Homo sapiens: one gene and its partner. The protein of the gene in region 1 interacts with the protein of each later gene in a pairwise test. Each region holds a gene or a part of one and is shown in the gene's direction. Other genes may lie near its edges.

Region 1 (9,180 bases):
AAATTAGTATACAAGCTTGTCATTTTCTTATTTGTCCATTTAAATTAACTAGTATTGAAATCAGTAAAATTACAATAATCATGTATTAGATACACATTAATTTCTTTTTTCTTATCTCTTGCAGGATTTCTGGTAGGTCCTACTTTAGGACAAGATGTGGTACCGTTGAAGCGTCAGTCTTTGATTCACAGACAGTTGAGCTTTTCAGCTGGGAAGCCTTTCCATTTTTTTTTTTTTAACGGCTTTCTGAACCTATGAAACCATGGCAGAAGGAGAGACAGAGTCACCTGGGCCCAAAAAGTGTGGCCCATATATTTCATCTGTCACTAGCCAGAGTGTGAACTTGATGATTCGAGGAGTAGTGCTATTTTTTATTGGAGTATTTCTTGCATTAGTGTTAAATTTACTTCAGATTCAGAGAAATGTGACGCTCTTTCCACCTGATGTGATTGCAAGCATCTTTTCTTCTGCATGGTGGGTACCCCCATGCTGTGGCACGGCTTCAGGTATGTGTAGGATGTTTCTGTAATGCTTAGAAAGGAAATAGGGTAAATGAGTATGGACGTTGTCTGAGCAATAAACCTTTTTAAAAAAGAAAATATATTTATTGAGATATAATTTAGGTATAATACACTGGACCCGTTTGAATTGAACAACTTGATGTGTTTAGGCAAATGCGTACAGTCACATGACCACTGCCAATCCAGCTGTGGAACATTTCCATCACCCTCCAGAGTCTCTCGTGTCCTCTTGCAGTCCATTCCCCACCCCCAGCCTCAGGCTACCACTGATCTGCTTTCTGTTGCCATAAATTATTTATCTCTGTTCTAGAATGCAATATAAATGGGCTCATAACGTATGTACTCCCTTCTGTCTCATTCTATCTGTCCTGTAAACTTTTAACATTTAATTCTGAAAAACAATCCTGTTTCCCTTAGGGATGAAGCATTTAACCCCTTAATTTTGTTCTTTCTTCAACCCATCTCATCTAAGTGTTATTTTAAGTTATTTGGATGATGAGCACCACCATTTGGTTTTAAGGGTTTGATGCATGTGCTGTAGTCTTGTTTCTGAAGTAATAAAAACTTGAATAATTAAAGTTTAAAGCTTCATGTTGTATTTTTGTAAATGCTTTTTTCCTTGGTATCTTGTTTTTATAAGTACCTTAGAATAATAAATATTTAAAGACATCTATAAGGTAGACTCTCTTTGCTTAAAATTAGTATCCTATTAGTTACTTTAGATATTTTTTTGGTGGTGGGCAGTGTGTAATGCATAGAGTAGAGCATTTCACAATACTTTATTGCTGCCATACTTCCACAATGGATAGCACTTTAGTGTTTTCTAATGACCAAGACCAATAGATTAATACTGTTTTTAATAATAAAGTAATAAAAGGAAACCATAATCATGTGGTAGAAGATAATTCTGATTGAAGGAGAAAATTGCTTTTTAAATACCCATTTGGTGTCTCATACTTAACATATATGAATGAATATCTTGCAACATAATATATGTCCTTCTTGGCTTCCATCCAAGAGCGGGAGGTTGAAGGATGAGGTTGCGCTTTACGGAAGTGTTAGAATGGCCTTGTGAAACTTGCTGGACAATTATAGAATCCTGTTGCACAGTTAGAGGGGCACTGTTGTAGTAAGGCTTCAGTGTTTATATACTGATGTCTCACTATTACATCGTTCACATTAAAAGTGAAGTCATGAAGGCAGTGATTCTTAGTTTCCCAGGGTTATCATTCTCCAAGAGAAAAGGCAAAAAATAGTCCAAATAAAAAACAAATTAAATTGTATCACTCTGCTGTATGTACTGGTCCTCATGCATTTTTCTTTCATTTAAATTCAGAAGAGAAAACGTTTTCTCAACAACTTTTCTAGTTCTTTGTTTCTTTTCTTCTATAGTATAGTCTGGCTGCCAGTAGAAGCTTTTTGGGACATGGAAGAGCATACATGTCTTTTCAGGATAGAACAGAGGGAAGGGAAACTGTTGTTTATTGAATGTCTGCTAATGTGCTAGGTACATCCTGTAATCCCAGGGTTCTGTAGAGCAACTTTGGGAGAGAGATGTTTGGCATTGTGCCTGTTATGGGGAGATGAGGACACTCACTGAGATGAAGAAAGAAAACCAGTGAGCCCAGGGTCCCAGAGCCAGTGAGTGGTGTGACTGGGTCCACATGTCACATGCTGGGGAAGGGAAAAGGAAGCTACTCACACTTTTCCCCCTACTCAGGATGCCACTTTTCAAGCCTCCAGACTGGGTGCCAGACCTAGATGGAATTCCCTGGCGTGTGTTGTGCATTTGGGCTGGGGCAGGAGAACTTAACTGAGGTTTCATTGTACCTCCACTATGAAGAGTAACAGGGCTGCACCTGCTGTCTTGTCCTTCTGCCCCTTTAATGTCAGCACTTTTGCCATAAACTTACATTTTAGGAAGGAAAATTTCAAATGCTAATACCACAGTTCAGCCACTACTTTCCTTCCTGTTCCCAGCCACTAGGTTTGTCACACTTACAAACTTAACCTCATTTGGGGAATTTGCATTTACATTTCTTGCTTAAGTATTTCTTCTGAAAGCAGTTTGTACCATAAGGTACTTGGGCAAAAGAAAGTAGAGAGACATTAGGAAATCTAGATTCCAGCCAATTCTGCTACCAATTTTGTTAGTTAAGTCATGGTGTTTAGTAGATGAGAGTGAAAGATATCAGATTTGTCCAAGTTGCCAGAGATGGAAAATGGATTCTCTCAAAATCTCTGCTCTGCCATCCCCTGCATCATTATTTTAGGGAAAGTATCATGGGAAAAGAAGTAAATGATTTAAGAAACATAGTGTGTTTGAGTTTGTGTGTGTATGTAATATGCATATGTTTTTGTGTATATGTGTTGGCGTGGATTTTCAAGACCTCGCTAGGGTCTTACCATCTTAAGTCAGAAAAACTGATAATCATCCTTTGATTTTCCTGTTCAACTAACATTCATAGATAGAGCAGCCACCTTTTGGAGGGGCTCCAGAATCACCACCTTCTGTGTGTAGAAAGTGCTCCTTGTTATTTGCCACCTTTCTCTATAGCACAATCCTGGAAAATTTGCTAGTGGTGGTTCTGGTGGGACAACTAATAGAGAACTTTGGTAAACTAATTTTGATGACTTTTTTTTCTTAATTCCATATTTTTAGTTTGATAATGCTGATGTTACAAGTTAACTTCCTTATGTGTGCCATGCACCAGAATTGGAATTAGAAATCTTTTCAGCATTATTGAGGGCCACAAAGAAATCTTTCTAAAGAATAAATAGAAAAAGACAACTCGTGTGGATAAAATAAGTAGAGAAGTTGCCTCAAAAATCACAAGTAGCCTGGTTGTGTCCAAACGTATGAAAATAATATCTAATGTAAAAAGAAAAGAAAAATCTTTCCTGTTTAGCTGTGCAGTCCCTTGCCCTATTCCTGTAGAGCCTTGTAAGATTCCTTGCTTTCTCTCCCGTTCTACATCCAGTTTCCAAGTCTTACATCTTTCCTCTGTCTCTTTCTTGGTCCATCCCTCAATGGCTGTGCTTGGAGTCTTTAGTCTTTGCCGGCCTCTAGTTTTGCACCCACCCTTTTCTCAGCCCCCTTGTATGGTACCCTCACTGCTAAGAAGATGGCCTCTCTCTGGTACAACAGTGATGACATTGTTTTCCTGATTGCCCATTGTCTGCAGGGTAAAGTCTTTATAATATGGCCCTTGACTGCTTTTTTCTTCTTCAGAGTCTTTCTGGACCCTGCAGCTCCCTTTGTGTCTGAAGCTTACAGCTTCCTCTTAACACCAGCAGTTTCCAGTTTTCCATGAATGTCCTCAGCCACCTCCCTTTAATGAGAGCACTATTTCTGCGCCATTTACTGCTGAATGCTCCTGCCTCAAGGGTCACCTCTTTCCGTGAAGCTTTTCTGACAGCCCAGCACCTTGCCTTCCCCTAGCACAGGCAAGGAGAAGCCTGGGACCCCTCTGTCCTGTCAGCTGCCCTTAATGCAGGATTGTATTTAATTGTTTCTGTGGTCACTTTGCAATTGGAATCGTATCTTACTCTTTTGCCTTTTTTTTTTTTTTTTTTTTTTTGAGACGGAGTCTCACTCCGTCACCTGGGCTGGAGTGCAGTGGCGCCATCTCGGCTTACTGCAACCTCCACCTCCCAGCTTCAAGCGATTCTCCTGCCTCAGCCTTCCGAGTAGCTGGGATTACAGGCGCCCACCACTACGTCCAGCTATTTTTTTGTATTTTTAGTGGAGACAGGTTTTCACCATGTTGGCCGGGCTGGTCTCAAACTCCTGACCTCGCGATTCGCCTGCCTCGGCCTCTCAAAGTGCTGGGATTACAGGTGTGAGCCACCACGCCTGGCCTTACCTTTTTAAATCTCCAGCAAATACCAAGAACCAGACATATTGTCAGGGCTTAAGTATTTGTTGAAGGAAAATATTATCTTATAGTTTTGCGTCGAAGTATACCTCATGGAGTGTTTTCGTTTATTCAGTTCCTGTTTTCTTACAAAATGTCTGACTTTAACTGTGTTCCTTTTAGTGCCTCCCTGCATTTAAGCACATTCCCATAAAAAAGTGATGACTTACTACTGATATTTTACAAACTTCTTTAGTGTTTAGCTTTGGTAGACTGTAACTAGTCACTGGGAAATAACTTAAAGGTATCACAAGAAATGTGATTTTTGCATCAGAGAACCATTTGATTTATAAGCAGGATTGTGTTTGCATATGATTTTACACAGGCATGATTTTAACAGTCTTTCTTGTTTTTTTTAAAAAAAAGTACAAGAAGAGGAAAAGAGGCCCAGACATACTCTGTTGAGCTCTCAAACAGTGGAACCTCACAGTGTTGTATATATTGCTATCAGACTCTGCCATGCCTTTATTTAAAGGAAAGAAAGAAGACATTTAATGGGAAGTGACAAGCTTCTTCGAATTCTCCCTCTCAGTGAGCAACTGAGAACCATGCATACTCAATGGATTTGATTTTTATTGGCAAATCCCAGGGTTGGCAGTGTGGCAGTTTAAATTTCTTTTTGTGTTTTTGCTTTCTCTCCTCAGTTGTCTCTCACTTGCAAGTCTGACATCACATGCATAAAAATATAGTCGATTTTACTTATTTATACCTTTGCACATACATGTCAGTATTCTCTATGTAATAATTCTTTACCTAGGCATCAGTTGCTCAGGAAAATTGACTTGGAATGTCTGCTCTTAGTTGACTTTACTCAGCAACAGGCAAAGGGAGGATATATATGGTGGGGGGATGGGGGTGACAAATGAGCTGTTAGTTTTATGACCCCTTGAGAAAAAAAGAGGTGATATTCGTTTAACTACATTTCAACTGTTAGGGATGCTTGTTGCCATTTTATTTGTATAGAAATTTTAAAATCCTGTCAGTTAATCTTGTCAGGATTTTGGAGCAGATTTTTAAATAGGAATATAGTGTGAAACTTCTAGATTTACTAATAGTTATTGGAGCTCTGCATTGCCGAGATATGTTCTTAATCTCTTGATGTTCTGTGAGCCATCTATACTCAGCACATGCCTAACTCAAAAGAGTTGTGGACTAGAAAATGCATACAGTATTGCAGCATCTCATCTCGAGATAGAAGGGTGGTCACACAGCCTTTTTCAAATGCTGCACCATTGGTCTGCTAGGCTGTGATTTTTGATACTAATTGGTTTCTGTTTTTCTTCGAAGAGTGAATGCATTGCCTGTGAGATACAGCTGGCTAATACTGGGTAGGGGGAGGGCCTCTTGTCCCTCAGGCACTTAGATTTTGGCGTTGTAATTTCATGATTCCTCTTAAGTGGTATTGGTTATTTTAAACATGCTTTTCAACTGATGTGACAGTAGTGTCTTTATTGCCAGAATGGCACAACATAATCATCCTGTTTTTAGGAAGATTAGAATATTTTCATTAAATAGTCTTTTTAATAACTAATTTAGCACTTAAAATTCCTTCCCACTAAATGAATAAAATGTTGAGGTTTGAGAAATAAGAAAGGGATGAGAATATTTTGGGACTCAATCATTGACATTTTATATACAGTTATGTATAATTAATGACACAACATTCAAAGTGTTCTTTCCAAAACTAAGAGAAGTACTAAGATGATTTCTTCTTCTAACAGTGCACTTAAAATTTAACTGAAAATTTTAAATACCTCTACACCTTGTTTCCTCCATTGTTTCTATGTGCAGAATGAGTCTTACCTGTAGATTTCTGTTGTGAGTTTTCCTGCTTTGACAATATGACCTACAGCCTCATTAAAGGGCTAGAGTGGAAAGGAGTGTCAGTAAAAGGTGCTACATGCTGAAGACTAAAACGGGAAGCTGGTAGGGGCGAGACTGATCTACGTAAGAGGCCAGCCAGAACCTTCAGAACATTGTGTGTATGATGAGCTTGTTGTATACTTTTATACTTCTAGATTCTCTTAGATTTGTGGCATATAATAAATATTTTATGGTTTGGAGTTTAGAGAGAACATTACTTAACTGCTAACTGGTTTGATACTTTTTTCAGGTCTCGTAGGTATCAGTAGTAGAAAAGTAGCATGAATCATTTAGTAGCACGAATCATTTAGTCCAGTCTGCTAAATTGTGAATCATACATTTGAAGAGTATTTTGTTGATTATAATTTAGAATGTTGTTGTAATCATTTGCAATACTTTCTTCATTGGTGTTATCCTCATTTCATTTCCTTTGGAAGGTAAGTTAAAAAATATCGGTGATTGATGTGAAATAACTTTTTTTTTTGTTTTTTTTTTTTTAAGAATCTTTAAAATGCTTGTGGTGGTTGTAGTGATTCTTTTAGCTTAAGTGTTGCCAGTACAACATTGGAGGTAACTTAATTTTTTTCTTTTTTCCCTACAGCTGTGATTGGGTTATTATACCCCTGCATTGACAGACATCTAGGAGAACCACATAAATTTAAAAGAGAGTGGTCCAGTGTAATGCGGTGTGTAGCAGTCTTTGTTGGTATAAATCATGCCAGTGCTGTATCCTTTACTCTGTAATGAAATGCATAATAACAAAGTGGCTTCCAACAAACCAAAGGTTAAACAGCCCCTTACAACTTCACTGTTGTCAAATTATGATATGCCCACTTAGTCAGAAGAAGAATGTCAACCATATTGTTGAAACATCGGTGTAGCAGCTGTGCAATTATAAAGTGGGGTATAGCCTTTCATTTCATTGTGTATTTTTCACTATCACTTAGAAACTTTGCAAATTTGAAAACTTTACTTGTTTTTCTTAAATTTGGTTACTTAATTACTTTTGTGTAGTTAATCCAAAAATGGAACAGGTACATTTTCAGAGGAGTTTTTTCCTCTCTTTCTTTGTTAAGAATTGCTAATAAGTACATGTGGTAGCTTCAGGTGCTATTTTGTCTTTTGTTTTTCTTAACTTAAAGAAGCTTTTTTTTTTTAAAGGTAGATGCATTGGTTTTAATCAATACCGACAAACCACATAAACGGCATAAGTAGAAATACCAACTTAGACCTTGGCCAAAAAATAAGTTTCTACCCTAGTACATATTTTCAAAGTTTTATTGTTTGAAGATTCAGACATTTTATTTAGTGGTTAATGAGTATTTTTACAGTGTCTCAGGTAGCCCCTATTCCCCTTCCCCTTTCTACCTTCTCTGCCCAGAAAAAAATGTTTGCCCTCATAAGGTTTTCCTCCTATCATCCTCTTTATTTCCTCTCTTGTACTTCCTCCTCATTTGCTCTGACTTTCCTTGGTAGAAGAGGAACTAGGAAATGCTATTCCTGTCTTTTTCTAGGAGATGTGGTTTAGACAATGAAGGTGGCAGGAGCCTTGGGTACTTGGAAAAGCAAGAAGTGTGACTCAGGCTGCCAAAAGTTTGCTCTTATAACTCTGCACTGGACTTGGGGCAGGCAGAGTTAGCTAGCTGGAGAGAGAGGGTGGGTCATGTGTCAAGTAGACCCCTGTGTCTTTCCCAAAAAGTATTGAGGTGTTTTGGATAAGCTTGGGGACAGAAACCATAGAAAAGAGCAGGGTCCTAGATTCTGAAAACACATCTGCCTTCCTCTGCACAGTTGTGCTGGCTGTTGCAGGTCTGTGAATTTGGAAGTCCCTCAGTGGCTATTATTAGTTTTAATTTCTGTTTGTATTGAGGACATTTCCACATGTTTATTTTGGTGAACTTTTTGAGATTTAAGATTTTATAAAAAATCTAGTGGTCAGGAGGGCTTAAAAAGTTAAAATCATATACTATTATATCTAGAAGAGAACTTAGAAATCACCTAGTTCCACATTTTCTTTGTAAAGATAATAAACAGAAGCTAAAGAGGTTAGGTAATTTACTAAGTCATTTATACTGCGACATTGCAGCAGAGCTGAGAACAGCCCTGAGACAGCCTGACTAAAGTCTAGAAACATCTCATTTTCCTACCCAGGAACCTCAAAACTGTGTCAGTTCCTCTCTGTCCGGTGGATTAGATCTTTCTCTCTTAGACACTTCCACTTTGATTTTTGTTTTTAAGTAGAGAAATTTAAATAGCCTTTTCTGAAATTCTAAAAACTTAATAAGTTCAAATTCTTTGCTTTGTTCACTCTCTTTCTCAATGAAATACTTAAATATAGCAATCTTAGATATCCTGTTGTCCTTCAAGTAAAGTCCAACATGTTTACCAAATTTATAGCATACACTTCTAATATTAGGTTACTTAGACTTTACAAAATCATTTGGCACTATTTTTTTATTTTTTGAGACGGAGTCTTGCTCTGTCACCCAGGCTGGAATGCAGTGGCACAATCTTGGCTCACTGCAAGCTTCGCCTCCCGGGTTCACGCCATTCTCCTGCCTCAGCCTCCTGAGTAGCTGGGACTACAGGCACCTGCCACCACACCCGGTGAATTTTTCTGTATTTTTAGTAGAGATGGGGTTTCACCATGTTAGCCAGGATGGTCTCAATCTCCTGACCTTGTGATTCGCCCACCTCGGTCTCTCAAAGTGCTGGGATTACAGGCATGAGCCACCGCACCTGGCCCATATGGCACTATTTTAAGATTGATATATCTATTTACGCTGGAAGCCTCCTTACTTCGCTGTGACTTTTAATTAAGTTTAGTTAGCAAACATGAAACTCATTTAATACCAAATTCCACTCTTTACATGAGTGTT
Region 2 (4,621 bases), on another chromosome or scaffold:
AGGTGATCCACCCGCCTCGGCCTCCGAAAGTGCTGGGATTACAGGCGTGAGCTACCACGCCCGGCCTTATTGACCATTTTCTAAATAAGCACATTCTATCTTTATTCTCTTAAAATTCAAATTTTCTGTTACTGATAATCCTAATACTAGGATTCTTGCTTAAGTATGTGAAACCATTACCGATTTGTTGTTCACATTTATTTTTTATGTTGTGAAACTGGACTAAAGGAATAGAGGGATGATTAGTCATAAAAGTCAAATAGCATTTGTGTTTAACTGTTGAGAAAAGTGAAAGATCAGTATGATTATTATGGAACTGTTTTTAATTCTTGCTTAAAGACTACAATTTTAGTATAATGACATTTGAGTCTAGGGTAGTATGTGGTAGATTTCTAGATGGTCCCTAATTAAGAAGTATTGTTGTATTTAGAATTGTCCACCTAATTTCTTTTTATATAATGCCAAGGTATTTCTTGTGCTTTTGGGATCTTATGCTGTTTGTAAAATGTTACTGTCCAATGTTGGATTATTGTTTTGGTTTCAGGCATTTGCTGAATAGGTGATGATACATGGGTATTTTTCTGCAAGTATTTAAACCAGGGGCATATGCAAAGGCAGTTGTAATTTCCTCTTGGAAAAAGCGCCAAATGTTTGAAGGTTAAAATCAAATGCTAGGGTTGATATTTAGGCTTATAACAAAATAGGCTTGTTTTCAAAGCAGTTTTTTCCTAGAGTTTTAACTGTTAACTCACTAGTTTGCTGCTGTTTTTAACTATGTTAAATAACATATGGTATTTGGCAAATAGATTTATTTTTCAAAATGTCTCACTAGTTTCCTTTTACACAATGTATATACTTCAAGATGTATAGAAAGGAAAGCTACAGTTGAGCCCTTATACATGTTTTAAGGTAGAAATATGTTCCCTATTGTTTGAAAACTGATTGTAAGAATAACCTCAGTTAGGAGATATAACTTGAAGTGTCAGTCCAAACTACTGATTTAACCCTATTTACGGTAACACATTACCTTCCTCACCTCCTGTTTGGCCCTGGAGAATGTAGTCCTTTTTCTCATTTGTGTTGAGAAATGAAAAGTCTGCTGTAGAATGTATCTGATGTCATTAGTTCTTCAAATGGATACCATTGTACATATAACAGTAGAATTTGGTTTGGGGTTGTTAGTGAAAAAAAATTTAAACCTGCCATTAAAAATCCCCATGTTTCATGGAAATCTAACAGAAATACATTGTAATAATTAGAACATTTTGTTTTCTTTTTTCTTTTTTTTTTTTTCGAGACGGAGTTTTGCCCTTCTTGCCCAGGCTGGAGTGCAAGGGCGCAATCTCGGCTCGCTGCAACCTCCGCCTCCCGGGTTCAAGCAGTTCTCCTGCCTCAGCCCCCTGAGTACCTCAGATGACAGGTGCGTGCCACCACACCCGGCTAATTTTTGTATTTTTAGTAGAGACGGGGTTTCACCATGTTAGCCAGGCTAGTCTCGAACTCCTGACCTCAGGTGATCCACCCGCCTCCGCCTCCCAAAGTGCTGGGATTACAGGTATCAGCCACCGTGCCTGGCCTAATAATTGGAACATTTTCATCATGAAAATGTCATCAGCTTTGCCAAAAGAAACAACCAATTGACTTGTTTGGCGTTTGTTTTCCATTTTCATGTCAATTTTATGTATACAGTTAGAATACCCAAGGAGACCACTAAAATCAGTTAAACAAGTAGGGTATATACAAAGAAAGATGAAACCCGAAAGTACATAAAAAGGATTTAAATCCGATTTTAGATGTACCTAGTGTGTATTTCTTATCTCTAGACAAGTTCATGTTTATTGTTTAATTTATGCCCAAGTGAAGTTGTAAACTTATGGTTCAACTCTGACACAGAATTTGTCACTTGTCTGAGGTCAGTGGCAGGTTTCTCTGCTGTCAAGCACTCTGTGTCACCCACCAGATTAGTATAACTATTAATTCAGACTGTACTCCTATGTTTAAGATAATTTTTACAAGAGCTGGCTGAAGCAGCACATTAGTAACCTGACAAGATTTCTTTTTCCCTTTTCAGGGGGAAAGGGTCACCTTAAAAATAAATTATTTTCAGGGACTTTGGGAATCTAATGATAAATATTACACATAATCTATGAATAGCTTAATCCTTTATATATTCCTTAAAATAGGAATTCCTCGACATCACTCCTGGCCACACTTTCCTTGCCTGTGTTGTTGCTATGTGTATTTGAAAGTAATATCTGCATTCCTTTTAAGATGTTCTGTAAGTCATATTTGTCAGTTATACAGAGTAGTCTTCCTTTTCCCCACGTTCAGTGTAATCTCACTGAACAGTAATAATAGCAATAGCTAACAACATCTGCACAGCACCTTACAGTTTGCAAAGAACGTTCACACATTCTCATTTGAGTTTTGCATAGTGAACCTGTTACGAGATGTCTCTTGACGTCGATGCTAAAAGTGTTAGAATCTTTACATCACTAGAGTCATTGAATATGCTGTAGTATTGAATAGTGCCCTGACTAGGGGGAGGATTTGGATGTGCTGCATTTCAAGCCGTGTATAATCATCAAAATGGGGGGCTTGAGTTCTTTAGCTACTTGAATCCGATTTACTTCTGTTAAGTGATGCTTTTCTAACCGTTTTCTGGATGGATTTTGTATTCACTATATTGTAGCTTGTAATTTGTATAAATGTACCATCTGATGTCATTAAAAAAAGTGTTTGTAGTGCTACTTTGCTGTGTCCTGATTCAATTAATGTTTTATTAACCGCTGTGTTTTTAAAAATTTGTTTGCCTGCTTCTCATTTTATAACATGTAGAATATGTACAGAGCTCACTTTAAAAAATTTGTTCGTTGGCCTCTGTTTGTGCTATGTAGATTATATAGAGAGCTGTCAAGGATAAGTTTTTATGCAGTAAATGTCAACCAGAAATGCTCAAACTGATTGGGAGTGTGGGGGAGGGGTGTTGAGCTGTAAAGGGCTGGTTATACTTCGTCTGGGGTGGGCTTCAAATGCCCCTAAAGGAGAGTTGAGAAATGTGGAAATAGATAATTCCTGACGACGTCCACATGCCACCCCCTCATGACCAATGTCCTGTGTCCTCTGTCCTCTAATCACCCGTTGATTGCACTCCAGCTCCTTCCTGTGCTTCTGAGGACTCCAGCTAATTCTTACTAATAAATGTTAATATCCCCTTCCCAAACACATTTGAGACGTCTTAGTATTAACAAATTTTATAGGTTATGAGATGTCCAGGGAACTCAGGAAACAGGTAATGGCATTGCAGAAACTACAGGACAGCAGTTCTGAAAGTTTACTGCAATCACCTTGTAGGATTTATTAAAAATAACTGATTGCCCAAATGTAACCCAGACCTTCTGAATCGGACTCTCTGGGGGTGGGGGCCTAGAAAGCTCTTTGGGGCAGGGCGTGGTGGCTCATGCCTGTAATCCCAGCACTTTGGGAGGCCGAGGCGGCGGACCACGAGGTCAAGAGATAGAGACCATCCTGGCCAATGTGGTGAAATCCTATCTCTACTAAAAATACAAAAATTAGCTGGGCACAGTGGTGCGTGCCTGTAGTTCCAGCTACTCAGGAGGCTGTGGCAGGAGAATCACTTGAACCTGGGAGGTGGAGGTTGCAGTGAGCCGAGAGCCTGGTGACAGAGCAATACTCTGTCTCAAAAAAAAAAAAAAAAAATTTTGGAACAGGCAGTGATCAACATGAAGCTGGATTGAGAACTACTGCTGGAGATTTAGAATTGTGCCTCCCAGTGTATGTGTTTAATGATGGACTTGAAGATGTTTGTATAAAGCCTGAAGTAAGCACACACCTTATTAGGCAAAGGTAGAATGTTGATAATGCTATATCGAAGGTGCAATTTAAAATAAGGAGACCTTTACTGGGTTCCTGACAATCCATATTGACTTTGCTTCAGTGCTAATGAATGATGTTGAATGAAAATTTTAGTACGGGGAACAGCCAACTTAAGACACAACTGAGGCGTGCGTAGATAGACATGGCCACTGCTGTGCCTGTGATGCCTTTTTCTTATTTGGAATCCTCACTGCTGTGGACTTTGGAGAGAAGGAAAACCAATAGGAGTATGTGAATTTGAGGTTTCTAAACCAGAGAGGTAATGGAGAAAAGCAGAAATGGTTTCTAGGCACATTTGTGCTATTAACCCTCTGGCTTCCCTGCCCCCCATTACCTTTCACTGCTTACGTGCCTGCACTTCCTTTCACATACGCCCTGCTCTTGCGTCCATTAAAGATGCATTGAGGTTAGCCCTTTTGGTAAATACAGGATGAAGGTGGAGAACATTAGTTCGCAACCTGGCAACCCAGGGATGCTTTCCTCCAAAAGAGGATCCAGCAGCCCTGAGGGAAGGGATACTACAAATGGCACACCCTGCATCTGTGTGCATCTCACCACCTTCAATGCTCCCACTTCGGGCCAGCCCAGATTTACTCCTCGCCTGGAGCCTCAAATTGGTTTCTTCTGCCCTTCTTGCACCTGTGGTCACTTTGCCACAAAGCAACTAGAAGTTTCCTTTAAAGATAATAGATCAGGCATACCATGCCTCTGCTCAAAATCCTCC

The links. The genes of interacting proteins can lie anywhere in the genome.
Region 2: the proteins of INSIG2 (region 1) and VMA21 interact in binary tests that used the Homo sapiens proteins (3 or more experiments, as listed by UniProt).

Annotation. Positions count from the first base shown.
Region 1 is NC_000002.12:118,096,295-118,105,474, forward strand, and holds part of INSIG2 (insulin-induced gene 2 protein), read left to right. Parts: intron 1-124; 5' UTR 125-262; coding exon 263-506; intron 507-6,902; coding exon 6,903-7,027; intron 7,028-9,180. UniProt on the Homo sapiens protein: Oxysterol-binding protein that mediates feedback control of cholesterol synthesis by controlling both endoplasmic reticulum to Golgi transport of SCAP and degradation of HMGCR.
Region 2 is NC_000023.11:151,406,615-151,411,235, forward strand, and holds the end of VMA21 (vacuolar ATPase assembly integral membrane protein VMA21), read left to right. Parts: 3' UTR 1-2,750; downstream 2,751-4,621. UniProt on the Homo sapiens protein: Required for the assembly of the V0 complex of the vacuolar ATPase (V-ATPase) in the endoplasmic reticulum.